2 separate regions of the Homo sapiens genome follow, and region 1 is linked to region 2. The links come from fine-mapping of genetic effects on gene expression. Tissue or cell type: whole blood. Region 2 holds a variant in brackets; the other region holds the start of a gene. All regions are shown on one strand. Distances are from middle to middle.

Evidence for each region. PIP is the estimated chance that this variant, and not a neighbour inherited with it, causes the effect.
Region 1: it holds the start of CPNE8, and the variant in region 2 is fine-mapped to the expression of CPNE8 in whole blood (TOPMed, PIP above 0.99).

The regions. Positions count from the first base shown.
Region 1 is chr12:38,897,653-38,914,530 of GRCh38, reverse strand. It overlaps CPNE8 (copine 8), which reads left to right and starts at 8,940. Exons shown (of 20, transcript NM_153634.3): 1 at 8,940-9,094. The coding sequence starts at 8,997. It overlaps CPNE8-AS1 (CPNE8 antisense RNA 1), which reads right to left and starts at 8,819. Exons shown (of 2, transcript XR_007063275.1): 1 at 7,534-8,819; 2 at 4,939-5,221. RefSeq lists an enhancer at 7,396-7,655 and a silencer at 8,786-8,955.
Region 2 is chr12:38,088,417-38,105,294 of GRCh38, reverse strand. No RefSeq gene overlaps it. Among named protein-coding and RNA genes, the nearest start is that of ALG10B, 220 kb to the left of the region's middle. RefSeq lists an enhancer at 5,734-6,028. The variant G/A (reference allele first, on the strand shown) is at 8,866.

The sequences.
Region 1 (16,878 bases), 810 kb before region 2:
CTTCCATGAGGAAATGACATTTTAGGTAGGCCATGAGGACTGAATAGGAGTTGGCCAAGTAAGACAGAATTAAAAAGAAGTACAGTTTAAAAGCTTTGAGAAGGAGAGGGGCAAAGTAAGTTAGAATAGTTCAAGGAAGGCTGTGTGGCTGAACTGTAGTGAATGTAGATGCCTCTTAGTCATATAAGCTACATAAGTAATTTTAAATTATTACTTGGGAGATAGGTGACACTTGGAATGCTCCTCTGGGAAGCTTACGTAAGAAAATAGAGCCAGAGGGTTTAAACCATCACCACCAAATTATGGTCATCACTATAATCAGCATCACTACTCTCATTTTAAGTGTTAAGTGCTAAATGAATTACATACATTTTCTCTAATTTTCACTAACTGTATATCACACATAATGGTATCATTTAACAGGTAAGAATACTGAGACTCAGAAGTACCTGAAAAGACTTTGTTGAGGTAGTGACATCTGATTTGGAGCCAAATATGTAAGTGTTAGCGAAAGAGGAAGGCAGAGAGGAGTATTACAGACAAGGAGAGTGGTATGAACAATTTAGGAAGGATTTTGTCAAGATCAGATTAATGTTTTATAAAGTGCATTCTAGCCATGGAATGAAGAGAAGATTGGAGGAGGGGACTGGAAACAGGGAGACAAGGTAGGAGAGTGCTGCATTCACCGGGGTGAAAGATGACCATAGACTAAACTAATGTCTACCATTAATGGAGTGGATGAGAGAATGTGAAAGTTGAGGAGATTTAAGAAATATTTAGGAAGTAGAATAGGTTGTCAGCACAATCCAATAGAACTTTAGAGAGTAGGCTGGGAGTGGTGGCTCACGCCTGTAATCCCAGCACTTTGTGAGGCCGAGGTGGGCGGGTCACCTGAGAACACGAGTTTGAGACCAGCCTGGCCAACATGGTGTAGCCCCATCTCAACTAAAATACAAAAATTAGCCGAGCATGGTGGCATGCACCTGTAATCCTAGGTACTCAGGAGGCTGAGGCAGGAGAATTGCTTGAGCCTGGGAGGTGGAGGTTGCAGTGAGGTGAGATCATGCCACTGCACTCCAGCCTGGGTGACAGAGTGAGACTCCATCTCCCAAAAAAAAAAAAAAAAAAAAAGAACTTCAGAGAGTAAAGGAAATTGTCTATCAATAGGGTAGCCCATAGCCAAGTGTGGATATTGAGCACTTGAAATGTATTAGGTTGGTGCACAAGTAATTGCAGTTTTTGCCATTACTTTTAATTGCAAAAACTGCAATTATTTTTGCACCCACCTAATTGTGCAACTGAAGAACTGCATTTTAAATTTTATTAAATAGCAATTAATTTAAATAGCCACTTGTGACTCATGGCTACTCTACTACAGTTCAGAATTGTATAATTTTAGATTGCTGAAAGTTTTACATATCCTCACTTTAATTACAAGATCTTTTAAGATAACTTTGTGCTGTCTATCCAAATTTGCACACTTCTTTGGTGAGTTTGGTTGTCTTTCTACTGTGCAAACATATGTAGTACTTAATTTTACTTCTATATTTACTTATATTGTAACCCTTTTCTATATTGGTCAGTTGTCTTTTTTTACCTGTTGGAAAGTGTCAAGTCCCATTTTTCCAGGAAAGTTTTAATAGCTTGTCTTTCTCATTAATATGCCTTCCCTTGAGCATCAATTACATTAGTCTATATCACATTATCTCATGACAAATCATTGCTTACCTCTTGCTCTTTCATATTCTTTATTGGTGCAATGAATTGAAGCTGGGTCTCACACTAAACTCTAAGATGCTTGGAAGGAGGGAAGATATCCTTCATGTCTTCTATATTTCTTCCTCCACCCCCACTGTTCAGCCTATAGTTGGCATAACAGCAATTCTTAAAGACAAATACTTGCTCACTACTCTGAGCCTACTCATTACAATGTATGCTACGAGATTTCTGGTTCCTTAAGTGTATTTGTTCTTTTCAATTAGAAAAAGTCTAAACTAGTGAAAAAAAAATATGAATGTCTTTTTTTTTTTTAAAGTGGGGGATACATGCTATTTTAGCCTCTATTGACTATTTTAAGTAGGTAGTCCCCAAGGATGCCTGCCATCAATTCCTTCCCTCATAATACGTGCATGCTGCTCTACCCTGTAAGTCAAGTCAGCCACCCCGCTCCCTCCAACTCCTTACAGTGGCCTTGAGACTTGCTTTGACAATTAGAAATCAGTGACACTGTGCCAATTCTGGGCCGAGGCTTTCGGAGACCTGGCAGCTTCCACTTTGGCTCTGGGAAAGCCAGCCACTGTGTTGTGGAGAAGCTCAGGAGAGACTCGAGAAGGAGGAGAAACCACAGAGCAGCTACTTGGGGGAAAGGCACTGAGCTGCCAGACATGGGAATGAAGCCTTGTTGGATTTTCCAGTCTGGCCAGCCTCTAGCTGAATGCAGCCATATGTATGACCCAAACTGATGCTACATGGAGCAGAACTGCCTGGCCAAGCCGTGCCCTAATTTCTGACCCAAAGAATCATGAAAAAGAGTAAAATCATGTTGTTTTGCATGACTAAATGCTGGAGGGCTAGTTATGCAACAATAGATAGCTGAAGTATTATCATTAAAAATAATAGAAGATTCAGTTATAGTAAAATAACTAACCTCCGTTTGGTCACCTTCCTGATCTACACTCTCTCTTAACTCTTGCAAGTTTATGGCCTCCCTTTACTGAATAGCCAGTGGGTGGAGCCAGTTGACTCTGTGATAATGGAAAACAAATATCCAAACCAACCCAAGACCTTCAAAACATCATGTGAAATAAATTATATGCTTAAATATGAAGTGTGAAATTCTGAAATTGAAAAGATTTTGCATTCTATGTGCTCTCTTAAGTGTAAAATTTACTTTGGAAACATTTACTTGAGACTAGGTTTACCTAAATAATCATACATGGTCCCTTAGAAAAGTGTTACTTGATTAAAATATTGGATTTACTGTCCCTAGACACTTATTCATGACAGATCTTAACTCTGTTATTATTTGTAGTATTTTAAAGTTGATTTTAAAAGTGATAGTCTTCCGACTGTCTTAGCTATTAGCAAGGTGGTAATTTATGAGGTTGGTGAGACACTGATCTTACTTGGTCACGAAGGTAACTTTAAGCAAACAGCATTAGTGATATTAACAATTTGAATGTTTGAAATGATTGAATTGTTTACATACTTGATCCACTTTGTACGGTTTAAAACCAGGTGGTTATTTGATCCAGAGAGAAGGCAGGTACTCAGAAAACATGTTTTGGCCACTCATCACAATGTCTTCCCTCATCTGTCACTCCCTAAAATTAAACAACTAGCCCATTTTTGCTGTGATATAAGTTTATTTTATTTTAAGCTGTGTCTTCATAGAGCAGGTCAACTAGCTAAAGTAATTATAAAGCTATCCACAGAGGTTAGAGAACTATGTATTTTCTTCAATTCCTGAGGGTATTTTAAAGGTGAGCATAGGGCAATGCTGGTATTTCTGACTTATCTTTGGCTAGGATAGTTGTTGGAGCCAATAGCGCAAATGTTCCATGATGAAGCTATACCCTGAAGAAATGCTCAGTCCAATTTGTTTTGGATTATGTGTGAGCTGATACATCACTTGCCAGGCAAGGTAAATATATTTTATCCTTATATTATAAGCATACACTGTTTCAGGGACATTCTTCAAAAAGTATGTTCCCTTCTTTCTGTTTTGTTGCTCTCATTGGAGACTCAACAGTGTTTTTTTTTTTGTTTGTTTTTGTTTTCTTGTTTGTTTGGTCTTTCTCTTCATGTGTTTTTCTCATTAGCCTCTCCTTAACCAAGCTATTTTGTAAATAAGTCCTTCTGAAAATAATGGTTAATAATCATTGAATTTACAAATTGAAGTCTTCTCTAATCTTGTGAAATAATAAAATCTCAGAAATGAAAAGAACTCCGTGATTCACAATAACCAAGATATGGCATTAATGTAGGTGCCCATCAACAGTGGATTGGATAAGGAAAATGTAGTACATATGCACCATCAAAATACTAGACAGCCATAAAAACGAACAAAATCATGTTCTTTGTAACACAGATGCAGCTGGAGGCCATTATTCTAAGAAAATTAATTCAGGAACAGAAAACCAAATACTGCACATTCTTACTTATATGTGAGAACTAAACTTTGGGTGCTCATGGACATAAAGATGGCAACAACAGACACTGGGGACTGATAGAGGGGGATGGGAAGGATGGAGGCAAACTTTGGGGAACTGTGCTCACTATCTGGGTGACAGGATAATTTGCATCCCAAACCTCAACATTATACAATCTATCTATTTAACAAACCTGCACATGTACGTCAGAGATCTAAAAGTTGAAACTATTTAAAAAACAGAGCTCGATGACTCAGTCAGTATAATCTTTACCCAATAATGTATCTCCTTGCTAACTTTTACTTGGTCTATAAGTGCCAGAAGGAGCTTTAGCTCTTAGATCTAGTACAGTGCCTAGTGCATAGCAGACATTGAATTAATGTCTGCTAAATCACTGATTCAGTGAATGATGGTTTATTACGTTATAGTAAATGTAACTTATCTTTGATTTTTAGCATATTCCAAGGGCTTTATGTTATTAATTTAAATGAATTTTAATAAATATAAACTTTTTATTATAAAATCTCCAAAATAAAAGTTTAGACATGTCATAATTTATATTTATATTATTAAAATTTATTTTTAAAAATTATATTCCTTTCTGTATTGTGCTAACTATAGCAACAGAATTTGAGTATACTTTCAAAGTTTTATCATTTAAAGCTTACTTCACTATGATGAATTTATAAGCACAGAACTTGAAAGAGTCAGCAAAATGGAAATAATAAATGTTATCGATATGTATTACTTTTCTTAGGGCTGCTGTAACAAATTACTGCAAGCCGAATTGCTTAAAACAACAGAAATTTATTCTTTCACAATTTTGAGGGTCAGAAGTCTAAAATCAAGGTGTTCCAGGGTCAGGCTCCTTCCAAGGTCTCTAAGAAAAACCTTTCCTGGCCTCTTCCAGCTTCCTGTGGTTACTGATAATACTTGATATTCTTTGCCTTTGGTGGTACAACTTCAGTCTCTGCCTCTATCTCCACATGGCCTTGTTCTCGGTCTGTATTTTTCCAAGTCTCTCTCTCCTTAAGCACACCACTCCACTGCTGACATATATTAAGGAAGACCTAAATAAATGGAAAGATATATAATGTTCATAGATCAGAAGATAAATTTGGATCAGATGTCAATTATTCTCTGATTTGTCCATAGAATCAATGCAACCCCAATGAAAATCTCAACAAGACTTTTTGTGGACCTTGTCTAGCTGATTCTAAAATTTATATGAAAATGAGAAGGATTAAAAATGAAAAAACAATTTTGAAGAGGATCAAAGTTGGAAAATTTATACTACCTGACTTTAAGAGTTATTTTAAAGCTATAGTAATCAAGACTCTGTGGCATTGGCTTAAAGAAAGACAAATAGGTAAATGGAATAGGATAGAGTCTAAAAAATGGACTCATAGATATATGTTAATTTTTGGCAAAGGATGCAAAGATTTTTCAATGAAAAAGGGTAGTATTTTCAACAAATGGTGCTAGCAAAATCTGATGACAATGTGTAAAAATGAGAACTTTGATTAGAAAAACCAAAATAAATTATAGAGATAAACGTAAAACCTAAAACTAAAATTTTAGGGGAAAGTATAGAAGATGATAATTTTTGTGATCTCACATTAGACAAATATTTCTTAGTTTTGACATCAATATTATGATTTATAATAGATAACGTTGAAGAACTAGATTCATCAAAATTAGAAACTTCTTCTCTTTGATAGACAGGAGAATGAAAACACAAGCCACAGACTGTCAGAAAATATTTTGTAAACCACATGCGATAAAGGTCTTGGATACAGAATAAAGAATTCTCAAAACTCAGAAATAAGAAAACCAACAACATAATAAAAAAATAAGTAAAATATATGAAGACACTTCACCAAAGAAGATACGTATACACATAGCAAAAAGACATAGGAAAATACGTTCAACATCATTTGTCATGAAGCCACATGAGATATTACTACACATCTGTTAGATAAGCTAAAATTTAAAAGACCATCATAAATGTTGGCAAGGATGTGTGCAACCAGATCTCTTATATACTGTTGTGGTAAAGAAAAGTAGTAAAACTCTTTTGAAAAAAAAGTTTAATAGTTTCTTTTTCTTTTTGAGACAGAGTCTCGCTCTGTCCCTAGGCTGGAGTGCAGTGGCGCGATCAATCTCCACTCACTGAAACCTCTGCCTCAGGGGTTCAAGAGATTCTCCTGCCTCAGCCTCCGGAGTAGCTGGGACTATAGGCGCACACCACCATGCCCGGCTAATTTTTGTATTTTTGGTAGAGACAGGGTTTCACCACGTTAGCCAGGATGGTCTCGATCTCTTGACCTCATGATCCGCCCACCTCACCCTCCCAAAGCGCTGGGATTACAGGCATGAGCCACCGCACCTGGCCTTAATAGTTTCTTAAAAAGTTAAACATACACATTCCATATGATCCAGCTGTTCCACTCCTAGGTACTTACCCAGAAGTAATGAAAACATACGTCCACAGAAAGAGTTGTACATATATGTTCATATCAGTTTCATTTGTAATTGCCCAAAGTTCGAACAACCAAAGTGTCCATCATCAGGTGAATGGACAATTTATAGCGCATATATACAATGAAATAAATTAAAAATTTATTTCATTAAATAAATGAAATTTATTAATTTAAAATAAATTAAAAATTTATTTCTTTGTATATATGAATAAATATTTAAAAAGTAGAATGAACTATTGATGCTAACATAGATGAATCTCAAAAGAACTTTGCTTAGTGGAAGAAGCCAGACCAAAAATACTACCTGCTTTATGATTCCACATACATAATTTTTAAAAATGCAAACTCTTCTATAGTGACATAAAGATCAGTGGTTGCTTAGAGGGTTGTTTCAGTGATGAAAGGAGGTACTGATTACGACGTAAGAAAACTTTTGGGTGATGGAATGATTCATTATTTTGATTTTGGTGATGGCTTCACAGGGAGATACATGAGTCAACATTTATCGAATGATGGATGCACTTTAAGTGCAGTTCATTATATATGTTATACCTCACTGAAGTGGAAACAAATTGGATGTAAGTATCCCACATGTTGACTACTAAAGTTCTCAAGTTTCATCTCTTCAGTAGGCTTCTGTAAAGTAAAATTCTGGTGAGCTTAAAAAAAAACCTAGATCTCTATGCCAAATTAACTTTGAGCAGCATAATAGAAATGCCTGGGGTTTTAGGGCATTTCCAAATCGCAGTAAACTACAGTTTAATTTGTAATAGGACAAGAGGAAGGAAAAAAAAAGAAGAAAAAGCGGTGGGTGGGGAAATCAGGAAAGGAAAGCAAGAAGAAACAGGGGAAGTACACTCGGCAGGGGAATCGGCAAGACTGCACCTACACACTCTCACCCGCCTCTATAGATTCTCTAGGCAGGAGGCTGCAAGTGGATTAAAATGTTACAACGCAAGGCAAGTCCTCCACCGCAAAAACTGCTCCTCCCAGACTTAGCCCAACCAGCTGGAAACTCCGTGCTTGGAGCGTTAAATCGGACGGACACCCGCCCCCTCTCCACCCTCTGCCTTCCAGCTGCGCCGCATCCTGTTCTCCGTCGCCGCCTGGTGGCGAGCTCCCGGGACCCGCAGGCGCTCGGGTGAGGCAGGAGGGAAGGCGCGGGGAACAAAGGTCCCTGCAGTGGAGGGGCGCCTCGTCTACCTCCGGATGCTTTTGCCACGACTCCGTCTTGGCACCAGTCTTGCTGCCCTGGAATGCAGTTTCCCAAACGCAGCGCTCACTCTGACTCCTCTCTGCTTTTATCCGTCAGGTCTCAGTTCTTGCGGGTGGGAGTCGGCTGAAGGAGCTGCGTTATATGGTTGTGACATCACCCTCCCCGGCCCCCATTTTCAGGTCAGAACTTTCATGCCTTTGGAAACGAGGGACCCAGAAGAGCCCTTACTGTAGGAGGAATGTCGCCGTTAGACCTCTAAGCTCCGAAGAACCAAGGGGAGACAGAATCCAGATTGCTTCCTTAAATCCCAAGTAGTATTGTTTTTTCCACCTTAGAGTCCGCCCCCCCGCCCCCACTTGTCCCATATATTGATCGGCCACTTTGCCACCGTGTTCCAAGGTTGGAGAGCGTCACAATGCCCCACCGTCCCCAACTCTCAAGTGGCCGACAGTGGGCAGTCCAGAAGCTGGGACCAGACTCATCTGCCCGAGGGCACAGTAGGAGGGACGGAGGGATCTCCCAAGAGCTCCGAGGGCGAGGTGAGAACCAATTGTGGGGAGGGGGACCTTATAACGGGGCAGTTAGGAACGGGCAGAGGTGCCCCCACCTCCAGCTTTCAACTCAGGCGAGGAAACTTCGAGACCTTCCCGTCCACACCTGATTGACAGAAGGAAGCTGTCGCGGCCCAGGAGGCGAGTGTGGGTGTGCAGAGGTGGAGACAAAACCTAAAAGCACGCAGAGCCGGCGAGGGCTTGCGGTCCTGGACGGTAGGGGTCTGCGTCTGGTGCCACCTTCTCCATCAGGCTGCTTGCTGGGTCCACCAAGCCTGACCCCTCCAGCCAGGAGGGGATCACGGAGTGTGTCCCCCGCCCGGGCTGCTGCCTGCCGGAAGGGGGCTGGGAAACCGGGATCCCCGCGCGCCACTTGCCTGGCAGCGTCAGTTTCACCCAGGACTGGCTAGCGGTTCCCTCGTGGCTCTGCGCGGAGGTCCGCCTCCTCCCTTCCCTCCCCCATCCCGCGCGCTGCCTCCGCCTCCTTCTTCTGCCTCCACCCTCAACCCCCATCCCCGCCTGACGGGAGCTAGCCCTCAGTCCGCCCGAGCTGTGGTTGTGGGCGCCGGACAAGTCCAAGGCGCCTCCTCCCAATATGGACAGCCGCTACAACAGCACTGCGGGCATCGGGGACTTGAACCAGCTGAGCGCTGCCATCCCGGCCACGCGGGTGGAGGTGTCCGTGTCCTGCAGGTGAGGACGCAGCCCTTCCCCTCTCTCCTGCCCTCTCATCTGTGGGGTTGGTAGCACTTGGAGAGCGCTCGGGGTACCACGAGGCTTTGCGCAGGCAAGAAGTTGCGCCATGAGTGGGAAATATCTCAGTAGTGGGGCTGGAGTTACCCCGGGTCAGGTGACACAGGGGAGCGGGAATTAGAAGCGGTGGGCTCCGGGACTGAGACTTTGTATTTTCTTTCTGGGAAACGCTGTAAAAGTTGGCTGGGCTGTGACTCAGCTGTGGGAACACCGGCCGCCGCCCACTTTACAAGCCGGTTTTCCGCCCCAAACCCGGGCTGGATGGTTGGGTGATGACCGGAATCGAAGGGGACAGCACTGCCAAAAGCTCTTGTGACCGCTGCACGCTTAGGCCCGGGACTTCCTCTGCTAGGCGTGTGCAAACCTGCTGTTGCTAGGGTTGGCTCCAACCCCGGCAGCTTCCTCCCCACCCACTTCCTGGAGCCTTCCAGCTTGCTTCTCCCCGACCCTTCCGGGCTTTTTGCCTTTTGCCTGATAGGTAGAGATTTCGGCCCTCCTTGCAGACGAATCTATGCCTTACCTAAGATCTGGGAAGTCACGACTTTTGTTTTGATTTGTTTTCGGGCCCACATCTGAGTGCTTGTAAAAACTGACTCTCGGCCGGGCGCAGTGGCTCAGTACAGTTTATACGCCTGTATTCCCAGCACTTTGGGAGGCCAAGGCGGGTGGATCACGAGGTCAGGAGTTCGAGACCAGCCTGGCCAATATGGTGAAACTCCGTCTCTACTAAAAATGCAAAAATTAGCCGGACGTGGTGGCACGCGCCTGTAGTCCCAGCTACTCGGGAGACTGAGACAGGAGAATCGCTTGAACCCGGGATGTGGATGTTGCAATGAGCTGAGATCTTGCCATTGCACTCCAGCCTGGGCGACAGCGCAAGACTCCATCTCAAAAAAAAAAAAAAAACAAAAAAAAACTGACTTTCAACCCTGTCCAGAGACTGTAAATTGCAAACTCGTTGTCCTGACCTTTCGGTTAGTTGCCCTGTAAATAAAGCAGCATCACCGCTATATCATAGATGATTTTGAGAAGGAGATGAGCGATGGTGCTAAATTGGTACTGGCCACTAATTTGCGAATTAATATTGACCCTGGAGCCCACTCCCTTGTTTGCATAATTGGGTCTGTCTCACTGGAAAACTGGCTCCTCATTTATCCATTTTTGCCCTAAGATTGTTTTTATGCCCTCACATCCTCCCTTTCCTTTCCTTAGCAAACTTGCCTTGAAGATATCTAACAAATTTGGGTGATCTTGATGTAAATAAGTTTAAAATTCCATCAATCTTGACTTTGCATTTTCACAAACTGAGCCTAAAGCCAAAGGAATTCTTTTCTGGGGGTGAAAATTCGAGCACCAGCAACCGTAGTAGAAGTATTATTTGAGGGTAGGGGACAGCCTTTATCTAGCCCTGAAACTATATCACCTGATTGTTTGCCGCCTCTTAAGACTGATCTGGGACTATGGAAATAATCATGCTGATAATGATAGCTATCATTAAGCTCTTGCCTCATTGCTGTCACTGCTTTAAGTGCTGCCTGAGATTTTTCTGTCAATGGAACAGGTGAAGCTGTTTGGAAAACTCTTTAGAGGATTCCTAGGCCTTTTTCTTTTCTCTGAAGCTTGCTTTCGATGTTAGAGGGAAGTTACTGGTATATACAGATAATGGATAGCCGGAAGTCCTACAATAACAGCATTACTAGAGTTCTTATCCTCTGCTCAACAGTCTGCAAAGTCTGAATGGCATGTGGCCTATACTTGGAATGAATATAAAAGAATATTGTCAATCAAGTCTGAATTTTTCCATGAGCTTTTTAAGGGAAATTATACCTAAACTGGTCATTCTGCCAGTAGGGCCCATGTTTAATGCAGCCCCTTTTTTGATGCATGTTTTCTGTGAGTGTGCTGGGCATACTGAAGTCAATTGGCTTAAGGCAATTTGTTTCAGTTTGCTGCCTCAGAACCTGCAAATCCCTTGTTCCAGCTTTTTTTCATAACATTGCTTTGACATTTTGTTTTTAATTTTTAAGATTTCTAACAGGAAAAAAAAATCCTGAAAGAGAACCTGAATACTTAGTGTCAAGCATCTCTGCCAGGGGCACTAGTGCTTAGTCTATTGTTTGAGTTGCTTCTGACTCAGCTTACTATTTACGATAAGTTTGAGGTAAAAAGCATCTTTTGGGCAAAGAGAAACATAATTAAATACCCAAGTTAGTGCCTTTGGAATAGGTTTGGGAATAGTTCCTGAAAAGGTGGGTTAAATTTATTTTTAATACATTAAAATTCAAAGATAAAAATATTTGAGTATTGTTGGATCTTGTAACCATAGGAGGTGGTTTAGTTTGGGCTTTGGCATCAGAGACCTAAGTACAAATTCTGGCTTTGTGACTTGTTCTTGCTACCTTGGAGTAAGTTCTTATTCAGTCTGTCTAAGCATTCTCATCTCCAAAAATAAGAATAGTTATGGTATTTACCTTATATAGAGTGTTATCAAGGTGATGTGTGAAAGCGCTTACACAATGCATGAAACAAAAACATGTTTTCAAAAATGTTAGCTATTATTATAATACTGGAAATAACATTTGTTGAATAAATGTGTTATATATGATTCAGGTATGGAATTCTGTAAAAGTCCTTCTCTTTTGAACTTCAATAAGTTGGTTAAAGAACACAAGGATAGAACCAGCATTGGGATACCTGTTCCCGCTTTCTCTATCTTCTTTGATGTGCATCAAGAACATGTTTTGTAGAAAGGTTGTGGGGATTTCACTTAGCAACAAAGCACAGTTGAAGGCCTCTGAGCCTTGCTATGGGCAGGCAGAGTAAGGAATTCCCTTGCCTTACTATACCAGAGACTTCTGAGGATTTGCCCACACTTCAAAAGCAGCTCAGATTTGAATAGGTTCTTTCTTTCTCATTCTTTATCTTTCTTTCTCTCTCTCCTTTCTTTCTTTCTTTCTTTTTCTTTCTTTCTTTCTTTCTTTCTCTTTCTTTCTTTTCTTTCTTTCTTTCTTTCTTTCTTTCTTTCTTTCTTTCTTTCTTTCTTTCTTTCTTTCTTTCTTTCCTTCCTTCCTTCCTTCCTTTCCTTCCTTCCTTCTTTCTTTTCTTTTTCTTTCTTTCTTTTTTCTTTCTTTCTTTCTTTCTTTCCTTCTTTCTCTTTCTCTTTCTTTCTTTCTTTTCTCTTTCTCTTTTCTTTTTTCTCTTTCCTTTCCTTTTCTTTTCTTCATTTCCTTTCTTTCACCTCCTTTCACTGTCCCCTATCATTAAAAGCTTTATGACAAAGTTTTTATCTTCATTTTGGGGAAGGTGAAAAAGATAAACGATTGAAGCTTGAATATAATTCATGGAAATAATTTAGTCTGTTTATTCATCAAGTGTCTGAGTGCCTTTTATATGTCTATGTTTATGCTAGGGTCCATGAGAAATGCAAAAGAAGTTCTCTGAAAATGTAAAATCTGATTGAGAGATAAACACTACATAAGACACGGTAACGGGGCTAAATTCAAAGATGAGGCTCATGCATGAGGAGGGAAAGGATCATTGTGGAATAGGGTGCTTGGAGTATATTACAAAGGGGAGAGATGGGGCTTGGGCAGAGACAAGCTGGATAGGCATGGTTTGGATTAGAGAAGGGACAGTGGTTAAATTTATAGCCACTTAAATTTGTGTTAAGGGGGTGAGAGGTACCCTTTTCTAGATGTATTTATGCAAAGGCAAGCTCCTGCTATTTGACCTCCTTCGTCTTCTACCCATTGTCTAGCTCTTCTTGCATTCATTTTCTTTTATTGTATAAATTTGTAGATTTTTAAATTAATTAGCTTACTTAATTAACTAAAAATGCCTGTAGCTGAAATGATACAACCTTGAGAGATAAACTAAGGTAATATTTCCATTTTATTCTGAAAGCTTATTACTATAGAATGAGGTAAACCCACTGGGAAAAATAATATGCAGTAATCACCTGTTTTCCTTGGGTCCTTGATTTTGTTGCACTATTTCACTGATTTTCATCATTTTCTCTGATTGAGAAGTCAGCTTATCAATAATAAAAGCAGTGAGAATATTGTGTATTTCTAGACTTTGCATGTTAGGTATCAAATGTACATCCTGTCACAGAAATAATCCTATAATGGTGATAATACTGACTATTTATTTATTTGAGATGGAATCTCACTCTGTGGCCCAGGCTGGAGTGCAGTGGTGCGATCTCTGCTCACTGCAACCTCCACCTCCCAGGTTCAAGCAATTATCCTTCCTCAGCCTCTCGAGTAGCTGAGATTACAGGTGCCTACCACCACGCCCAGCTAATTTTTGTATTTTTAGTAGAGATGGGATTTCACCATGTTGGCCAGCTGGTCTGGAACTCTTGACCTCAAGTGATCTGCCTACTTTGGCTTCCCAAAGTGCTGGGATTATAGGCCTGAGCCACTGCCCCCCTGGCCAATACTGACTTTAAACATTAAAGTGGAAGGAAGACTATGAAGTGGAAAAGGGTTGAGTGCCTACGTGGTGCTAGGCATTCTAAAAAGCCCTTCCTGACCTGGTGTAAGTCTATTGCCTCATCTCCCATCACTCCTTGCATGAACCCAGCAACTGTATATAGTCTGATAAACAGATGTGTGCCATAGCCCAAAATGCATGCCCGAGAAATACGGCTAAAAAATACTTATAAAAGGTACAGTCCCAAAGTGTGAGCGTTCATCCTAGACAACCAAACTCCTCATGCTTTTGTGGCTACACAGGTGCTGCTCTTTGCCCTGCCCTACCTCCCTTCCCCTTCTTTTCTGGATTAGGCTGTGCTCCTAAACTGGATTAGTCCCAAAGTAGCTGAGGTGTGCCAGTGTCATAGGTATATTACCACTCTTAGTCTTTCTATTCTCCTTGAGGACAAGTTTTGTCTCTTTCATGTCCATGTACTATATTCTGAGCTTGGCACAGAATATGTAGTTAGTAAATGTTTGATGCTGCAGTTCTATAGCCAAATTGTCTAATGTGGGAAGAGGGATTTCTCCTGTTAAAATATCATTCCTAGGTCCCATAGCAGATCTATTGAATCAAAATCTCTGGGGATGGGACCCAGGAATCTGAGCTTTTAACAAGTTCAAGCTGTGCTGGTTATACACACTAATTATTTTCATCTCTTGGTTTCATGAGTAAGTGACTCTAACTCTAGTCCCTTGATCTGAGTTAGTAAAACCCACCCTACTAGGGTGTTAGGAAGATACTTTTTGATGGTGTGCTGGAGCTTAAATGGGTTTGGGAACAGAAATTTGTAAGTCAGTTGTTAAAGTGACTATTAAAAATTGAATTATATAAACAAAATTAAATTATATTAAAAATAAATTTAAGAAATGCTGAAAGGTTATAACTTCCTAATTGCTTTACTACATGTTACTGTCATCTGTTTTTTTTTATAATCATCTATTCTCTATTTTTTAAATCTGTGTGTTGAAAGTATTCTGCAGTGCTGTGCTTCTGTTCTCTTCCCAATTCATGTGTGCCACCTTGGCAGCTTGAAATAAGCCATAGTGGGAATATTTACACCATGGGAATTGGCAAACACTGCAAATCAGTGTTTGACTTACCCTTTTGTCATCTGTATTTAAGAAATCATTCTGTGGGAATCAGTTGACTCTATGGAGTTTATAATAAAAGTACTATGTGCAACTTATTATTTGTAGATTGTGTGCCAAGCTACATACTCTACACATCAGTAAAAAATAACAAATTTTGTACACACAAACGTTCAGCTTTTTATTGAAGAGGTTGTTTTAAAATATATACTTGCACATCACTGTTTATGGACTTTTGGAAAAGGTAAAGCCTTATATAAAAGAAAATTATTGTTGTTTGTCTGGTTCAGTTCTGGCTATTATAATAAAGTACCAGAGACAAGGTGGCTTATTAACATCATACATTTATTTCTCACAGTTGTAGAGGATGGATGTCTGCGATCAGGGTGCCAACATAGTCAGGTTCTGATGTGAGCTTTTTTTTCAGGTTACAGGCTGCCAGCTTCTCACTGTACTTTCACATGGCCTACAGAGAGTGAGAGAGCTCTCTGGGGTTCCTTTTATCAGGACAGTATTCCCATTCATAAGGGCAGGCACCATCATCATGACCTAATCATCTCCCAAAGGCCCTACCTCCTAATATCATCACATTAGGGGTTAGGATTTCAACACATGAATTTTGGGGGGACGCAAACATTCAGTTCATAACACTCTTGTTAGACTGTCACTATTAGAAGTGGTAGTGTCAAGTTCAGCACTATCTCTGGTCTTCCTTCTCTACTGGAATAAGTGGGGTTGTATGATTTTATAATCCATAAAAGTTGTGATAGCAGGTATATTGCAGTTAGGAACTTAGAGACTTTTAAATTTCTCCCTCTCCTTTTCATGTGGTTCTCTCTACACTTTTATTCTTCTCTTACTTTGAAGTTGTATTTTTCTTTCCCTCTTTCTCCATCCACTGGTGGCATATCCTTTGCAAGTTTACATGTTACAAGTCCAGCTACACTTAGTGATTAACTGACCATCTGCGAAAGCAAAGTTAGATTCCAAGAGAGAGTGTCTGACCCTTTTTGGAGTTGGCTGTCTGAGGTAGATACCTGTGCTGTTCTAATGATCTGCGGTGAAAGGAATCAAAGCATTCAAACACAACAGTTGGAGGCTCTACCTTAGTCCACATTGGTTCATCTCTTAGCATACTTTACCTTTCTTTAGTCAGACAAAAAATTTGGAGATACTATGTAAATAGATTTTCAAGTGATGTTGTTAGTTGATAAATTAAGTTATATAAGCTAGGGATATTAGACTGCCTGTTGTGCTGTTAATGAGCCATATGACAGGTAAACAGAGGGTAAAGTTGTTGTAGACCGTAACATCCTATTCTGTCTCTGCAGCTCTTGAGATCCTGTGGTTCAAGATTGTAGTCACCCTGTAGTGCCTTTTTTGATCATATTTAGGTTTGTCTTAGCCCCAGAGTTTCAGTAAAATTTGTCCTGGGAACTTTCTGAACTGTGGCGTTGAAGTCTTAATGTGAGAGTTGCCCTGGTATATTTTTTTTTCAGAGAAATACCTTACTTAACATTGTTGTTCCACCAGTATTTTGGTCTGCCTGTGTTTTTTAGCATTTGGGGCCTGAGGGGTTTTAAAACAGCCCTGGTATGTGGAGAATGCTAATCTAGAAGCAGTTTAAAGGACAGGATCCCACAGGAGAGGGTGGTAATAGCTGTGCTCCTTTAGGTCTGTTATTTGTGTTGTAGCAGGCAGAAGCCTATATCCCCTATTTGAGTTTACTCAAGACTGAGAAGAAATACAATTCCTCTCAAAGAGATTTCATCCAGTTCTTAGCCTGTTTGAGAGCCAGTTTTGCTTAGCGCTGAAGAACGTGGGTGTAGGGCTAGATTAGCTCTGCCACTTAGTATCTTTGAAACATCTGTTCCTCAGTTTCCTCATCTGTAAAGTGGGGATAATAATAGCCCCCAGTTCTTATATTTGCTTTGAGGATTAAATAAGTTAATACATGTAAGTGAGATAAAACACTGCTTGTGACATTAGTTAAGCACTCAATGATTACAAAGAGATAATAAAAAAATTAAAATCCTTCGCTGTTGCGTCAAACTATGAGCAAATGAGTTCATTTTTGTCTCATGTATAGCATCACATTTATATTCTCTCTGTGTATATTAATATATACACACATATAATATATAATACATAATA
Region 2 (16,878 bases):
ATTGTATAAAAATCCTAGAGGACAATCCAGACAATAGAATCTTGGACAGGAATGTGCAAAGATTTCATGACAAAAACACCAAAAGCAATAGCAAGAAAAACAAACATTGACAAGTAAGATCTAATTAAACTAAAGAGCTTTTGCATAGCAGAAAATAAAGCTATCAACATAGTAAACAGATAACCTAGTGAGTGGAAGAAACATTTGCAAACTATGCATCTGAAAAAGATCTAGTATCCAGCATCTATAAGGAACTTAAATTTACAACAAAAGAAACAACCTCATTAAAAAGTGGGCAAAGGACATGAACAGACACTTTTCAAAAGAAGACATACATATGGCCAACAAGTATATGCAAAAAACCTCAGCATCACTGATTGTTAGAGAAATGAAAATTTAAACCATAATGAGATGGCCAGGTGTGGTGGCTCACGACTGTAATCCCAGCACTTTGGAAGGCTGAGGCAGGCAGAACACGAGGTCAAGAGATCGAGATCATCTTGGCCAACATGGTGAAGTCCTGTCTCTACTAAAAATACAAAAATTAGCTGGGTGTGGTGGCATGCACCTGTAGTCCCAGCTGCTTAGGAGGCTGAGGCAAGAGAATCACTTGAACCTAGGAAACGGAGGTTGCAGTGAGCTGAGATCGTGCCACTGCACTCCAGCCTGGTGACAGAGTGAGATTCCATCTCAAAAAAGAAAAAAAAAGAAAGAAACCACAATGAGATGCCATCTCACACTAGTCAGAATGGCTATAGTTAAAGAGTCAAACAATAAATGCTGGTGAGGTTGTAGAGAAAAGGGAACTTATACACTGTTGGTAGGAGTGTAAATTAGTTCAACCATTATGGAAAGCAGTTTGGCAATTCCTCAAAGAGCTAACAGCAGAACTACCATTCAATAGTTCTGCTTGCAATCCCATTACTGCGTATATTCCCAGAGACATAGAAATTATTCTACCATAAAGACACATACATGAAAATGTTCATTGCAGCCCTATTCACAATAGCGAAGACATGGAATCAACCTAATACTATCAACCAAAATACTATCAACTTAAATACTATCAGTATGGAGTATCAACCTAAATACTATCAGTAACAGGTTAGATTAAGAAAATCTGTCACATATACATTATGGAACACTAGCAGCCATAAAATAAAGAGATTATGTCTCTTGTGGCAACATGGAATGTAGCTGGAGGCTATTATCCTTAGCAAACTAACACAGGAACAGAAAACCAAATATCACATGTTCTCAGTTGTAAGTGGGAACTAAATAAGAACTTAGGAACTCAAAGAGGAAGACAGCAGACACTGGGGTCCATTTGAAGTTAGAGGGTGGGAGGAGGGAAAGAAGGAGAAAAGATAGCTATTGGGTACTGGGCCTAATACCTGGATGATAAAATCATCTGTACAGTGAACCCCTGTGATATATGTTTACTATGTAACGAATCTTCACATGTACCCCCAAACCTGCTGTAAAAGTTCTAGAAAGTTAAACTTTAAAAACTCTTAGGAAAAAGCATATGCAAAAATCTTATAACATTAAATTTGGTGATTGTTTCTTGACTGTTACACCAAAAGCATAGGACACAAAATAAAAAACATATAAATTGGACTTGATTAAAATGTGAAACTTTTCTGATTTTTTTGATAAGAAAAACACTCTGTTGTTCGTGTTTTTTGCTACCAAAAAAAAGAACTCCCACTTCTACTAAAATTTGTACAAAAAGCATGAACAACAGAGTGAAAAGACAACCAGCAAATGGGAGAAAAGATTTGAAAATCATGTATCTGACTAGGTACATAAGGTATAATATAATAAGAAGAATATATAAAGAACTTCTAAGACTCAATAACAAAACAAAACAACAACAGCATTTATAAAAAGGAAGAGGACTTGAATCTATATTGAGTCAATAAGTCTACAGAAAAATGCTCAGCATCACCAGTCATGACATGCACATCAAAACCATAATAAGATACCACATTACATCTATTAAGGTGGCTATATAAAAACCAAAACAACAAAAATGAAAAAGTACTGGCTAGTATGTAGGGGAAGTGGAACCCTGGTGCATGGCTGGTGAGAATATAAAATGGTTTATAGACTGTGACCAATAGTTTGGCAGTTTATCAGAAAGTTCTATATATAATTACCATATGTTTCAGCAGCAGGTGGAACACTTCCATATGTCTCAACTAAAGGTGTATCCAAAATAATTAAACGCAAGGACTTAAGCTGCAACCTGGGCCTCTGGGTCTTAAGCGATTCTCGTCCCTCAGTCTCCCGAATAGCTGGGACTACAAGGATGTATCACCATGCCCAGCTAATTTTTATATTTTTAGTAGAAAGGGGGTTTCACCATGTTGCCCGGGCTGGTCTTGAACTCCTGAGCTTAAGTGATTTGCCCGCCTCAGCCTCCCAAAGTTTTGGGATTACAGGTGTGAGCCACCATGCCTGGCCTCTGTTATTCAATCTAAGAACTGCATGCAGAGATGTGTTCAGCTTTTTAAATTTTATTCACTTATGCACTGATACTTTCACACCAATTTTTATAGCAACATCATTTACAGTACAAAATGTAAAAACAAATCCAGATATCTTCTAAGAGATAAAGAGATAAAGAAAATGTGGTATAGACACCACACAACAGAATATTATTTAGCCTTAAAATCAATGCAATGCTGCCGGGTATGGTGGCTCATGCTTATAATCTCAGAATGTTGGGAAGCAAAGATGAGAGGATCTCTTGAGCCTGACAATTTGAGACCAGCCTGAGCAACATAGCAAAATACCATCTCTACAAATAGTACAAAAATTTGCTGGCCTTGATGGTGTGTGCCTACAGTCCCAGCCACAGGGGAGGTCCATCTGAGTCAGAAGGATCACTTGAGCCTGGGGAGGCTGAGGCAGCAGTGAGTCATGATTGCATTTCTGTGCACTCCAGTCTGGGTGACAAAAGAGAGACTCCATCTCAAAAAAAAAATGCAATGCTGATACATGCTACAACATGGATGCACCTTGAAGACATTATACTATGTAAAATAAGCCAAATACAAAAGGATAAATATGTAATGTCAAATTTTGTGTATAGGGGAATGCTATATGAGGCTGGCTCATTCTGAGCAGGAGCAGATTGTTGGGATGTTAGAATACTAGTGGCTCATTATGTTTACACACCAGATCATGGCTGGCAAAGTCGGAAGGCAAGTGCTGCTGTGGGTACCCATCTACCTCAACTGATTGTTCTGAGCCCTTGAGCTGTTATCTAGTGACTTCCAAGGCTGAAGGTCTGTATAGACATAATTCTATGCCTCACCTGGCGAGCAGAAAGTTGCATGGTGTATAAGGAGCAGCAGTGATGGCCAGAAATAGCTCTGAGGCTTCCATATCTGGCTGCCAGTTACTATCTTTGCAGAGCTCCACACAGGAGATTGGCAAAAACGTATTAATGGGGTAACACTCTGTTTCCTTTGGTGTGGGGCAGAAGCTTGCTGTTGCCAACAAGGGCCAGCATTGAAATGAGGTGAGTGGAAGAACAGAGGGTTCTCCAAACCAGCCCAGAAATGGCTGAGAAAGTCCCCCTGAGCAGACAGAGCCATGACAACTCTAAAGGGCTCTGTCCCATATATTAACACACACACTCTCACACACACACACACACACACACACACACACATATATATGAATACACACACACAGAGACATAGATGTAGATATTTATTCTATTGCTTCTATTTCTCTGAATAAGTCTAATACAACCTGTAACTAGCAAAAGACTGCATACGTTATCAAAAATATACTAACAAGAAAAGTCCAGAATCAGATGGCTTCACTGATGAATTGTTTTAAACATTAAAAGTTGTAACTCCAATTTTTCTCACTCTAACAATTGCAATTAGTCAATGCAATATACCAACTCAATAGAATGAATTTTAGAAAAAAACGTGATCACCTCAAGTGATAGAGAAAAAATTTGAAATAATCCAAAACACTTTTATAAGAGCACCTAGTAAACTAGATATAGACTAAAACTTCCTGAACATAAAAAAGGTACATATAAGAAACTCAAAACTACCGCTACATGCAATGGTGAAAGACTAAAAACTTTCTCCTTAAGATCAGGAACAAGACAAAGATAGTTGTGTTTATCACTTCTGATCAAAATTGTAATACAAATCAGGTCAGAATAATTGAGCAATACAAGAAAAGAAACACTCCAATTGGAAAAGAAATAAGCTTATTTCTACATATAGATGTTATAATTTTATATATATAATTAAAATCCTCAGTAATAATGAAGCTGTTAACATTAATAATCAAATTCTGCAAAGTTGTAGAACAGGGGGTCAATACATACACATTAATGGAATAAAATTAAGAGTCAGGAAAAAAATCCATACATGTAGTTTTTTTTTTTTTTTTTGAGATGGAGTCTCACTCTGTTGCCCAGGCTGGAGTGCAGTGGCCCAATCTTGGCTCACTGCAATCTCCACTTCCTGTGTTGACTCTATTCTCCTGCCTCAACCTCCGGAGTAGCTGGGGCTGCAAGCGCCTGCCACCATGCATGGCTAATTTTTTGTATTTTTGGTATTTTTTGTATTTTGGTTTCATCGTGTTAGCCAGGATGGTCTCGATCTTCTGACCTCTTGATCCGCCCGCCTCAGCTTCCCAAAGTGCTGGGATTACAGGAGTGAGCCACCGCGTCAGTTCCCATTCATGTAATTTTTTTAACATGGACTTGGCAAAGCTGCAGGAGCTATTGGAAATCATTTAGTTCATGTATTTTAGCCCATTTTTTATTTTTTTTTTGAGACAGAGTTTCACTCTTGTTGCCCAGGCTGGAGTCCAATGGCGTGATCTCGGCTCACCGCAATCTCCACCCTCCAGGTTCAACTGATTCTCCTGCCTCAGCCTCCCGAGTAGCTGGGATTACAGGCATGCGCCACCACGCCCGGCTAATTTTGTATTTTTAGTAGAGACAGGGTTTCACCATGTTGGTCAGGCTGGTCTGAACTCCCGATCTCAGGTGGTCTGGCCACCTCGGCCTCCCAAAGTGCTGGGATTACAGGTGTGAGCCACCGTGCCCTGCCAACTCTAACCATTTCTTGAAATTGGGTTGCTTTCTTATGCACCTTGTAAAAGCCTTTCCTTCATGCCCCTCGGGTGGACCACAAATCATGGCTGGGTGCTTTCCATTTCACCAATCACTGTTTGCTCAAATAAAGTGGTTAACGTTTTAACATGGAATCCCCTTTTATTTTTAACAAGAGAGACTGGGGACGCCCCGGGCTGCAGCTCCTCCGACGCACACACCGAGTGGGGGTTCTGCCCTGATGACCCACCTGGCATCCCCGAACAATCTGGGGAATACTCGCACTGTGGGCGCACAGCAGGACGCCACGCAGGGACGGGACCGGAGGGCATGAGGCCGGACACGGGGGTCCCTGCTGCTGGCCCAGCCACCATCTTGCAGGCACAGGGGACTGAGGGCCAAGCTGCGCCAGAGACTTGGAGATGACTGTGGGGAGGCCGGTCCTGCTGGTTTCACAGCCTGCTCTCTTCTCTCGGGGTGCCGAACCCCCTTACTCACCATTTCCCAGCTTCCAGGATGTTCTGGTATCTTAGCTATGCGTCCCCAAGTACCTTCAGATTACAGGGCAAAAGAGATTGTGAGGAAGGCCCCATGGAGCTCCCAACATGGAGAAGGTGGAAGAGTAGAGATGGATCCCAAGTTCTGGCGCCAGGGAGAGAAAAAGTTCCCGCCAAACACTGGAAGCCACGCCCTTCCTTCCTCTCCAACTGCGTGCCTGATTGGGCTGTTCCCACGCCACCGCCACCGATTGCATAAAGCTCCAGGGCCCACCCACTCCCCCCCCACCGCCACTCCCCCTCAGCCTTAGTGCCCTTTTTTAAAAAAAAACTTTAAGTTCTGGGATACATGTGCAGAACGTGCAGGTTTGTTCCATAGGTTTACATGTGCCATGGGGGTTTGCGGCACCTATCTTGAACTCCCGACTTCAGGTGATCCGCCCGCCTCCACATCCTAAAGTGCTGGGATTACAGGCGTGAGCCGCCCTGCCCGGCTGCTGCGCCTATCAACCCGCCATCTAGGTTTTAAGCCTCACATGCATTAGTTATTTCTCCTAACGCTCTCTCTCTCCTTGACCCCCATTCTCTGACAGGCCCCAGTGTGTGATGTTTCCCTCCTTGTGTCTATGTGTTCTCATTGTTCAACTTCCTTTTATGAATGAGAACATGTGGTGTTTGTTTTCCTGTTCCTGTGTTAGTTTGCTGAGGATGATGGTTTCCAGCTTCATTCAAGTCCCTGCAAAAGACATGAACTCATCCTTTTTTATGGCTGCATAATATTCTATGGTGTATATGTGCCTCATTTTCTTTCTCCAGTCTATCACTGATGGGCATTAGGGTTGGTTCCAATTCTTTGCTATTGTAAACAGGGCTGCAATAAACATACGTGTGCATGTGTCTTTATAGTAGAATGATTTATAATGCTTTGAGTATATACCCAGTAATGGGATTGCTGGGTCAAATGATATTTCTGGTTCTAGATCCTTGAGAAATTGTCACACTGTCTTCCACAATGGTTGAACTAATTTACCCTCCCACCAACAGTGTAAAAGCATATCTATTTCTCCACAGCTTCACCAGCATCTGTTGGTTCCTGACTTTTTAATAATTGCCATTCTAACTGGCATGAGATGGTATCTCATTGTGGTTTTGATTTGCATTTCTCTAACGACCAGTGATAATGAGGTTTATGTTTTTTGGTCGCATAAATGTCTTATTTATTTATTTATTTATTTTAATTTTTGAGACTAAGTCTTGCTCTGTTAGCCAGGGTGCAGTGTAGTGGCAGGATCTCGGCTCACTGCAATATCCACTTCCCAGTTTCAAGTGTTTCTCCTGCCTCAGCCTCCCAAGAAGCTGGGATTACAGGGGCACACCAAAAGGCCCAGCTAGTTTTTTGTATTTCTAGTAGAGAAGAGGTTTCACTATGTTGGCCAGGCTGGTCTCATGATCCTCCTGCCTCGACCTCCCAAAATGCTGGGATTACAGGCCTGAGCCACCTCGCCCAGCCAAATGTCTTCTTTTCAGAAAAGTCTGTTCATATCCCTTGTCCACTTTCTGATGGTGTTTGTTTGTTTTTTTTTTTTCTTGTGAATTTGTTTATGTTTGGATATAAGACCTTCGTCAGATGGATAGATTGCAAAAATTTTCTCCCATTCAGTAGGTTGTCTGTTCACTCAGATGATAGCTTCTTTTGCTGTGCAGAAGCTCTTTAGTTTAACTAGATCTCATTTGTCAATTTTGCTTTCTTTGCAACTGCTTTCGGTGTTTTAGTCATGAAGTCTTTGCCCATGCTTCTGTCCTGAATGGTATTGCCTAGGTTTTCTTCTAGGGTTTTTATGTTTTGGGGTTTTACATGTAAGACCTTAATACAGCCAGGGACAGTGGCTCATGCCTGTAATCCAGGCACTTTGGGAGGCTGAGGCAAGCAAATCACAAGGCCAGGAGTTCGAGATCAGCCTGGCCAACATGGTGAAACCCCATCACTACTAAAAATACAAAAAAATTAGCTGGGCGTAGTGGTGGGTGCCTGTAATCTCAGCTACTTAGGAGGCTGAGTCAGGAGAATTGCTAGAAAGGTATTTCTCTTTCTATTTGAAAACGGAGGTTGCAGTGAGCAGAGATCACTCCACTGTACTCCAGCCTGGGCAACAGAGTGAGATTCCATCTTAAAAAAAAAAAAAAAATCACAAAACAAAAAAACTTTTTTTTTTGTTTTTTGTCTTTTTTTTTTTTAATTCTTTAAGTTTTAGGGTACATGTGCACAATGTGCAGGTTAGTTACATATGTATACATGTGCCATGTTGGTGTGCTGCACCCATTAATTCGTCATTTAACATTAGGTATATCTCCTAATGCTATCCTTCCCCCCTCCCCTGACCCCACAACAGGCCCTGGTGTGTGATGATCCCCTTCCTGTGTCCATGTGTTCTCATTGTTCAATTCCCACCTATGAATGAGAACATGCAGTGTTTGGTTTTTCATCTTTGCGATAGTTTGCTGAGAATGATGGCTTCCAGCTTCATCCATGTTCCTACAAAGGACATGAACTCATCATTTTTTATGGCTGCATAGTATTCCATGGTGTATATGTGCCACATTTTCTTAATCCAGTCTATCATTGATGGACATTTGGGTTGGTTCCAAGTCTTTGCTATTGTGAATAGTGCTGCAATAAACATACGTTTGCATGTGTCTTTATAGCAGCATGATTTATAATCCTTTGGGTATATACCCAGTAATGGGATGGCTGGGTCAAATGGTATCTCCAGTTCTAGATCCCTGAGGAATCGCCACACTGACTTCCACAATGGTTGAACCAGTTTACAGTCCCACCAACAGTGTAAAAGTGTTCCTATTTCTCCACATCCTCTCCAGCACCTGTTTCCTGACTTTTTAATGATCGCCATTCTAATTGATGTGAGATGATATCTCATTGTGGTTTTGATTTGCATTTCTCTGATGGCCAGTGATGATGAGCATTTTTTCATGTGTCTTTTGGCTGCATAAATGTCTTCTTTTGAGAAGTGTCTGTTCATATCCTTTGCCCAATTTTTGATGGGGTTGTTTGTTTTTTTCTTGTAAATTTGTTGGAGTTGATTGTAGATTCTGGATATTAGCCCTTTGTCAGATGAGTAGATTGCAAAAATTTTCTCCCATTCTGTAGGTTGCCTGTTCACTCTGATGGTAGTTTCTTTTGCTGTGCAGAAGCTCTTTAGTTTAATTAGATCCCATTTGTCAAGTTTGGCTTTTGTTGCCATTGCTTTT[G/A]GTGTTTTAGACATGAAGTCCTTGCCCATGCCTATGTCCTGAATGATATTGCCTAGGTTTTCTTCTAGGGTTTTTATGGTTTCAGGTCTAACATTTAAGTCTTTAATCCATCTTGAATTAATTTTTGTATAAAGTGTAAGGAAGTGATCCAGTTTCAGCTTTCTACATATGGCTAGCCAGTTTTCCCAGCACCATTTATTAAATAGGGAATCCTTTCCCCATTGCTTGTTTTTGTCAGGTTTGTCAAAGATCAGATAGTTGTAGATATGCAGCATTATTTCTGAGGGCTCTGTTGTGTTCCATTGGTCTATATCTCTGTTTTGGTACCAGTACCATGCTGTTTTGGTGACTGTAGCCTTGTAGTATAGTTTGAAGTCAGGTAGCATGATGCCTCCAGCTTTGTTCTTTTGGTTTAGGATTGACTTGGCAATGTTGGTTCTTTTTTGGTTCCATATGAACTTTAAAGTAGTTTTTTCCAATTCTGTGAAGAAAGTCATTGGTAGCTTGATGGGGATGGCATTAAATCTATAAATTACCTTGGGCAGTATGGCCATTTTCACGATATTGATTTTTCCTACCCACAAGCATGGAATGTACTTCCATTTGTTTGTATCCTCTTTTATTTCCTTGAGCAGTGGTTTGTGGTTCTCCTTGAAGAGGTCCTTCACATCCCTTGTAAGTTGGATTCCTAGGTATTTTATTCTCTTTGAGGCAATTGTGAATGGGAGTTCATGCATGATTTGGCTCTCTATTTGTCTGTTATTGGTGTTTAAGAATGCTTGTGATTTTTGCACATTGATTGTGTATCCTGAGACTTTGCTGAAGTTGCCTATCAGCTTAAGGAGATTTTGGGCTGTGACGATGGGGTTTTCTAGATGTATAATCATGTCATCTGCAAACAGGGACAATTTGATTTCCTCTTTTCCTTATTGAATACCCTTTATTTCCTTCTCCTGCCTGATTGCCCCGGCCAGAACTTCCAACACTATGTTGAATAAGAGTGGTGAGAGAGGGCATCCCTGTCTTGTGCCAGTTTTCAAAGGGAATGCTTCCAGTTTTTGCCCATTCAGTATGATATTGGCTGTGGGTTTGTCATAGATAGCTCTTATTATTTTGAAATACATCCCATCAATACCTAATTTATTGAGAGTTTTTAGCATGAAGTGCTGTTGAAATTTGTCAAAGGACTTTTCTGCATCTATTGAGATAATCATGTGGTTTTTCTCGTTGGTTCTGTTTATATGCTGGATTACGTTTACTGATTTGCCTATGTTGAACCAGCCTTGCATCCCAGGGATGAAGCCCACTTGATCATGGTTGATAAGCTTTTTGATATGCTGCTGGATTCAGTTTGCCTGTATTTTATTGAGGATTTTGCATCAATGTTCATCAAGGATATTGGTCTAAAATTGTCTTTTTCTGTTGTGTCTCTGCCAGGCTTTGGTATCAGGATGATGCTGACCTCATAAAATAGTTAGGGAGGATTCCCTCTTTTTCTACTGATTGGAATAGTTTCAGAGGGAATGGTATCAGCTCCCCCTTGTACCTCTGGTAGAATTCAGCTGTGAATCAATCTGGTCCTGGACTTTCTTTGGTTGGTAAGCTATTAATTATTGCTTCAATTTCAGAGCCATTATTGGTCTATTCAGAGATTCAACTTCTTCCTGGTTTAGTCTTGGGAGGGTGTATGTGTCAAGGACTTTATCCATTTCTACTGGATTTTTTACTTTATTTGTGTAGAGGTGTTTATAGTATTCTCTGATGGTAGTTTGTATTTCTGTGGGATCAGTGGTGATATCCCCTTTACCATTTTTTATTGCGTCTATTTGATTCTTCTCTCTTTTCTTCTTTATTAATCTTGCTAGCGGCCTATCAATTTTGTTGATCTTTTCAAAAAATCAGCTGCTGGATTCATTGATTTTTTGAAGGGTATTTTGTGCCTCTATTTCCTTCAGTTCTGCTCTGATCTTCATTATTTCTTGCCTTCTGCTAGCTTTTGAATGTGTTTGCTCTTGCTTCTCTAGTTCTTTTAATTGTGATGTTAGGGTGTCAATTTTAGATCTTTCCTGCTTTCTCTTGTGGGCATTTAGTGCTATAAATTTCCCTCTACACACTGCTTTGAATGCATCCCAGAGATTCTAGTATGTTGTGTCTTTGTTCTCATTGGTTTCAGAGAACATCTTTATTTCTGCCTTGATTTTGTTATGCACCCAGTAGTAATTCAGGAGCAGGTTGTTCAGTTTCCATGTAGTTGAGAGGTTTTGAGTGCGATTCTTAATCCTGAGTTCTAGTTTGATTGCACTGTGGTCTGAGAGTTAGTTTGTTATAATTTCTGTTCTTTTACATTTGCTGAGGAGAGCTTTACTTCCAAGTATGTGGTCAATTTTGGATTAGGTGTGGTGTGGTGCTGAAAAAAATGTATATTCTGTTGATTTGGGGTGGAGAGTTCTGTAGATGTCTATTAGGTCCACTTGGTGCAGAGCTGAGTTCAATTCCTGGGTATCCTTGTTGACTTTCTGTCTCATTGATCTTTCTAATGTTGACAGTGGGGTGTTAAAGTCTCCCATTATTAATGTGTGGGAGTCTAAGTCTCTTTGTAGGTCACTCAGGACTTGCTTTATGAATCTGGGTGCTCCTGTGTTGGGTGCATATATATTTAGGATAGTTAGCTCTTCTTGTTGAATTGATCCATTTATCATTATGTAATGGCCTTCTGTGTCTCTTTTGAGCTTTGTTGGTTTAAAGTCTGTTTTATCAGAGACTAGGATTGCAACCCCTGCCTTTTTCTGTTTTCCATTTGCTTGGTAGACCTTCCTCCATCCCTTTATTTTGAGCCTATGTGTGTCTCTGCATGTGAGCTGGGTTTCCTGAATACAGCACACTGATGGGTCTTGACTCTTTATCAAATTTGCTAGTCTGTGTCTTTTAATTGGAGCATTTAGCCCTTTTACATTCAAGGTTAATATTGTTATGTGTGAATTTTATCCTGTCATTATGATGTTAGCTGGTTATTTTGCCCTTTAGTTGGTGCAGTTTCTTCCTAGCCTTGATCGTCTTTACAATTTGGCATGTTTTTGCAGTGGCTGGTACCAGTTGTTTCTTTCCATGTTTATTGCTTCCTTCAGGAGCTCTTTTAGGGCAGGCCCGGTGGTGACAAAAGCTCTCAGCATTTGCTTGTCTGTAAAGTATTTTATTTCTCCTTCACTTATGAAGCTTAGTTTGGCTGGATATGAAATTCTAGGTTGAAAATTATTTTCTTTAAGAATGTTGACTATTGGTCCTCACTCTCTTCTGGCTTGTAGAGTTTCTGCCGAGGGATCTGCTGTTAATCTAATGGGCTTCCCTTTGTGGGTAACCCGACCTTTCTCTCTGGCTGCCCTTAACATTTTTTCCTTCATTTCAACTTTGGAGAATCTGACAATTATGTGTCTTGGAGTTGCTCTTCTTGTGGCGTATCTTTGTGGCATTCTCTGTATTTCCTGAATTTGAAAGTTGCCCTGCCTTGGTAGATTGGGGAAGTTCTGGATAATATCCTGCAGAGTGTTTTCCAACTTGGTTCCATTCTCCCTGTCATTTTCAGGTACACCAATCAGATGTAGATTTGGTCTTTTCACATAGTCCCATATTTCTTGGATGCTTTGTTCATTTCCTTTTATTCTTTTTCCTCTAAACTTCTCTTCTCACTTCATTTCATTCATTTCATCTTCCATCACTGATACCCTTTCTTCCAGTTGATTGAATTGGCTACTGAGGCTTGTGCATTCATCATGTAGTTCTTGTGCCATGGTTTTCAGCTCCATCAGGCCCTTTAAGGACTTCTCTGCTTTGGTTATTCTAGTTAGCCATTCATCTGATTTTTTTTCAAGGTTTTTAACTTCTTTGCCATGGGTTCGAACTTCCTCCTTTAGCTCACAGTAGTTTGATCGTCTGAAGCCTTCTTCTCTCAACTCGTCAAAGTCATTCTCCAACCAGCTTTGTTCCATTGCTGGTGAGGAGCTGTGTTCCTTTGGAGGAGGAGAGGTGCTCAGATTTTTAGAGTTTCCAGTTTTTCTGCTCTGTTTTTTCCCCATCTTTGTGGTTTTATCTGCCTTTGTTCTTTGACGATGGTGACGTACAGAGGGGGTTTTTGTGTGGATGTCCTTTCTTTTTGTTAGTTTTCCTTCTAACAGTCAGGACCCTCAGCTGCAGGTCTGTTGGAGTTTGCTGGAGGTCCACTGCAGACCCTGTTTGCCTGGGAGTCAGCAGCAGAGGCTGCAGAACAGTGGATATTGGTGAGCAGCAAATGTTGCTGCCTGATTGTTCCTCTGGAAGTTTTGTTTCAGAGGAGTACCCGGCCGTGTGAAGTGTCAGTCTGCCCCTACTGTGGATTGCCTCCCTGTTAGGCTACTTGGGGGTCAGGGACCCACTTGAGGGGGCATTGTGTCCATTCTCAGATCTCAAGCTGTGTGCTGGAAGAACCACTACTCTCTTCAAAGCTGTCAGACAGGTACATTTAAGTCTGCAGAGGTTTCTGCTGCCTTTTGTTTGGCTATGCCCTGCCCCCAGAGGTAGAGTCTACAGAGGCAGTCAGGCCTTCTTGAGCTGCAGTGGGCTCCACCCAGTTCAAGCTTCCTGGCCGCTTTGTTTACCTACTCAAGCCTCGGCAATGGCGGGTGCCCCTCCCTAGCCTCACTGCCACCTTGCAGTTTGATCTCAGATTGCTGTGCTAGCGAGGAGAGAGGCTCCGTGGGCATAGGACCTTCCGTGCTAGGCACGGGATATAATCTCCTCGTGTGCCATTTGCTAAGACCATTGGAAAAGCACAGTATTAGGGTGGGAGTGACCCGATTTTCCAGGTGCCATATGTCACCCCTTTCTTTGACTAGGAAAGGGAATTCCCTGACCCCTTGTGCTTCCCGGGTGAGGTGATGCCTTGCCCTGCTTTGGCTCATGCTTGGTGCTCTGCACCCACTGTCCTGTACCCACTGTCTGACACTCCCCAGTGAGATGAACCTGGTACCTCAGTTGGAAATGAAGAAATCACCCGTCTTTTGCATCACTCATGCTGGGAGCTGTAGACTGGAGCTGTTCCTATTTGGCCATCTTGGCTCCACCAAACAAAAAAACTTTAATCCATCTTGAGTTAATATTTGTATAAGATGTAAGGAAGGTCTCCAGTTTCTGTTTTCTGCATAAAGCTAGCCAGTTTTTTCAGCACCATTGTTAAACAGGGATTTTTTTCCCCATTGCTTGTTTTGGTCAGGTTTATTGAAGATCAGATGGTTGTAGATGTGTAGTGTTATTTCTGAGGTGTCTGTTCTGTTTCATTGGTCTATATCTCTGTTGTGGTACCAGTACCATGTGTTTTGGTTGCTATAACCTTTTAATATAGTTTGAAGTCGGGTAGCATGATGCCACAAGCCTTGTTATTTTTGCTTAGGTTTGTCTTGGGTGAACAGGCAAATGGGCTCAAATAGTGGGATCACATGCCCAGAGTATCACAGCTAATTAAGAAGCGAACTTAGACTTGAAATGCACTTGTTCTTTCCCTTACCTGAGTCTGTTTTATAATGCATCTTAGCACCTATTTAAAGGTAGGAAGTAGAACAATTTGGACACCTTTTCCACAACTTTTTAAGCATTTTAATCATGCAGGAAAGACCCTTATCCCATCCTTGAGCTCCTCTCTCATGATGCTGCACCCCATTGCTGACCATATCGTGGGGTGGCCATTAGGAATCAGGTGGGAAGTTGGTTTGGGAATAAATAAGCGAGAATTATGTTGCCCAAATTTGCTCATCTAAGAAAGTCTCCTCAACCATTCTGTGTGAAGAGGTTTTTCCAGGGTAGTTTTGCCCTGACTGTGCTGCATCTCAGTCTGACTTTTCTTTTTGAAAATCACTGTATTACTCTTATTAACGGGGGTAATTCTCTTTCTATTTGAAAACAGCCAACTGTCCTCTGCAGGTGTCTTGATTTGATTTGCTAGTTCAGATTCTGAAGGTAGCGGTGAGAAAATATTTGGGCCACATTTGAATACCTCATTTTCAGCTGGAGGATATATAAAAATTTCTTAACAATATCTAACTGTTTTCTCAATAACCATTATATTTAACTGTGATGGCTTGGAGGGCAGGGCTGGACACAGATGACACAATCTTTGAAGTTTAATTTGGTTGTAAGTTTCTTTTCGTTTCATTTTGCTTTGTTTTTGGATACAAGGTCTTGCTCTGGTGCCCAGGCTGGAGGGCAGTGGTGCAATCATAACTCATAATTTGCTTATAACAGTTCTTTAAAAAATATTTTTGGCTGAGTTTGGTAGCTCCCATCTGTAATCTAAACACTTTGGGAGGCCAAAGTGGAATGATCGCTTGATCCCAGAAGTTCAAGACCAGTCTGGGCAACATAAGTAGGCTCAGTCTCTAGAAAAAGATTTAAAAATTGTCTGGGCATAGCATTGCTTGCCTGTAGTCCTAGCTACTTGAGAGGCTGAGGTGAAAACATCACTTAAGCCTGAGAGTTTGAGGCTGCAGTGACCCATGACTCAGCCACTGCACTGCAGCCTGGGTGACAGAGACCTGTATGTGTATGTACGAGTGTGTGTTTGTGTGTATATATATATATTTCATATATATAGTTATATATATATATGTTCATATATATATGAACAATATGTATGTTAAAAATATGTATGTTAAAAAAATTCAAGCACGGGAGAAAAGTGAAAGCCCTTGGTGGGGGATGTGGAGAAAGGCGAGTATGGCTCCAGCAACTCAGTGAGACTTGGTTTTCCATCCTGAAGAATTGCCCATCCACACTGAAACCATAGCCTAGCACATGCCAGTTCTCACACTACACCTGCTGGGATACCACTGTGTACCCTTTTTTATAAAACAAAATCTTTCATCTAAGAGAAGGAGAGGAGAAAAGGAGGGTTTCACATTCAAAGCCTTCATTTTTTAATGAAACAACAGCCACTTGTCATTTCAGTTGTCCAAAAGTGACTGACAGCACTAATACACTTAAGGAATCAACCAAAGAAAATAGGCCTCTCAGGTGAGGAGGAGGCACAATGGTAACTAAACCCAATCCATTCTCAGCTTAGCATGATGCCCACATCTCAAGAAGTGGTGTTGGCCATGTGAACCGTGTTCACTGGACAAGGCCAGGGGAAAGGAATTTCTAAGACATACAGCACCCTCTAAACACTCCAAAAGACATTCAGCTATACGTGTGGCTGAGGACCTGCCTGCTATGCAGAGGGATGACTGAGCAGCAGCCACCAGCTGTAAAAGCTTTAAACTCCTCCTCTCATAGGGACTGGCCACCCGCACACACCCCGCCTCACTTCCTAGGTTCTGGCCATCAGGTGCACCTGGGGGACTGCCTTCCTCCCATCTCATTAGCTCTCCAAGAGTGTCCAGCTCACTCTAAAACCTACCCTAGGATGAGAAGTTGTAGATTCTCCTCCATTCTCCCAGAGCAGTGTGACTTCTGAAGAGTACTGCCCAATCTTCTTACCTCAACTGATGTGACAAGGGCTGGTGCCCGGGCAGTTAGATGTCCAGTGACATAACAGGCTCAGCATGCCCAGGGCCTAGCCCCACAGCCTGGCATCTCTCCCCCACCTAGCCTTCATGCCGGCGTTTTCTCTTCTGTCACCAGTGTCAGGTGATGTTCATCTGTGCCACACTCATGAGCCTGGTAAGCGAGAGGTGGGTAAACTCCAACTGAGTGCCTGTGACTCCACCCTCTTACCTCCCACTCAAGTGACATTATAAGCATAATTTTACATTTGATCTAATTTATGCATATTGTTCTTTTCATAACATTTCTAACAACAGCCCTCACAACCAAATGAGTCTGGGTTACAGAACACACAGGCGAGGCTGGGGTAGCAGGTTTCACTTACTTTATTTCAATGTGAAATGAAAATGTGATGGTTTAAAAACAAGAAAAAGTTATTGATCAACTGTGGGGTTGCTACACTTGCTACCTCATACTCACTTCCTTTGAAACAGGGTATCTGGACAG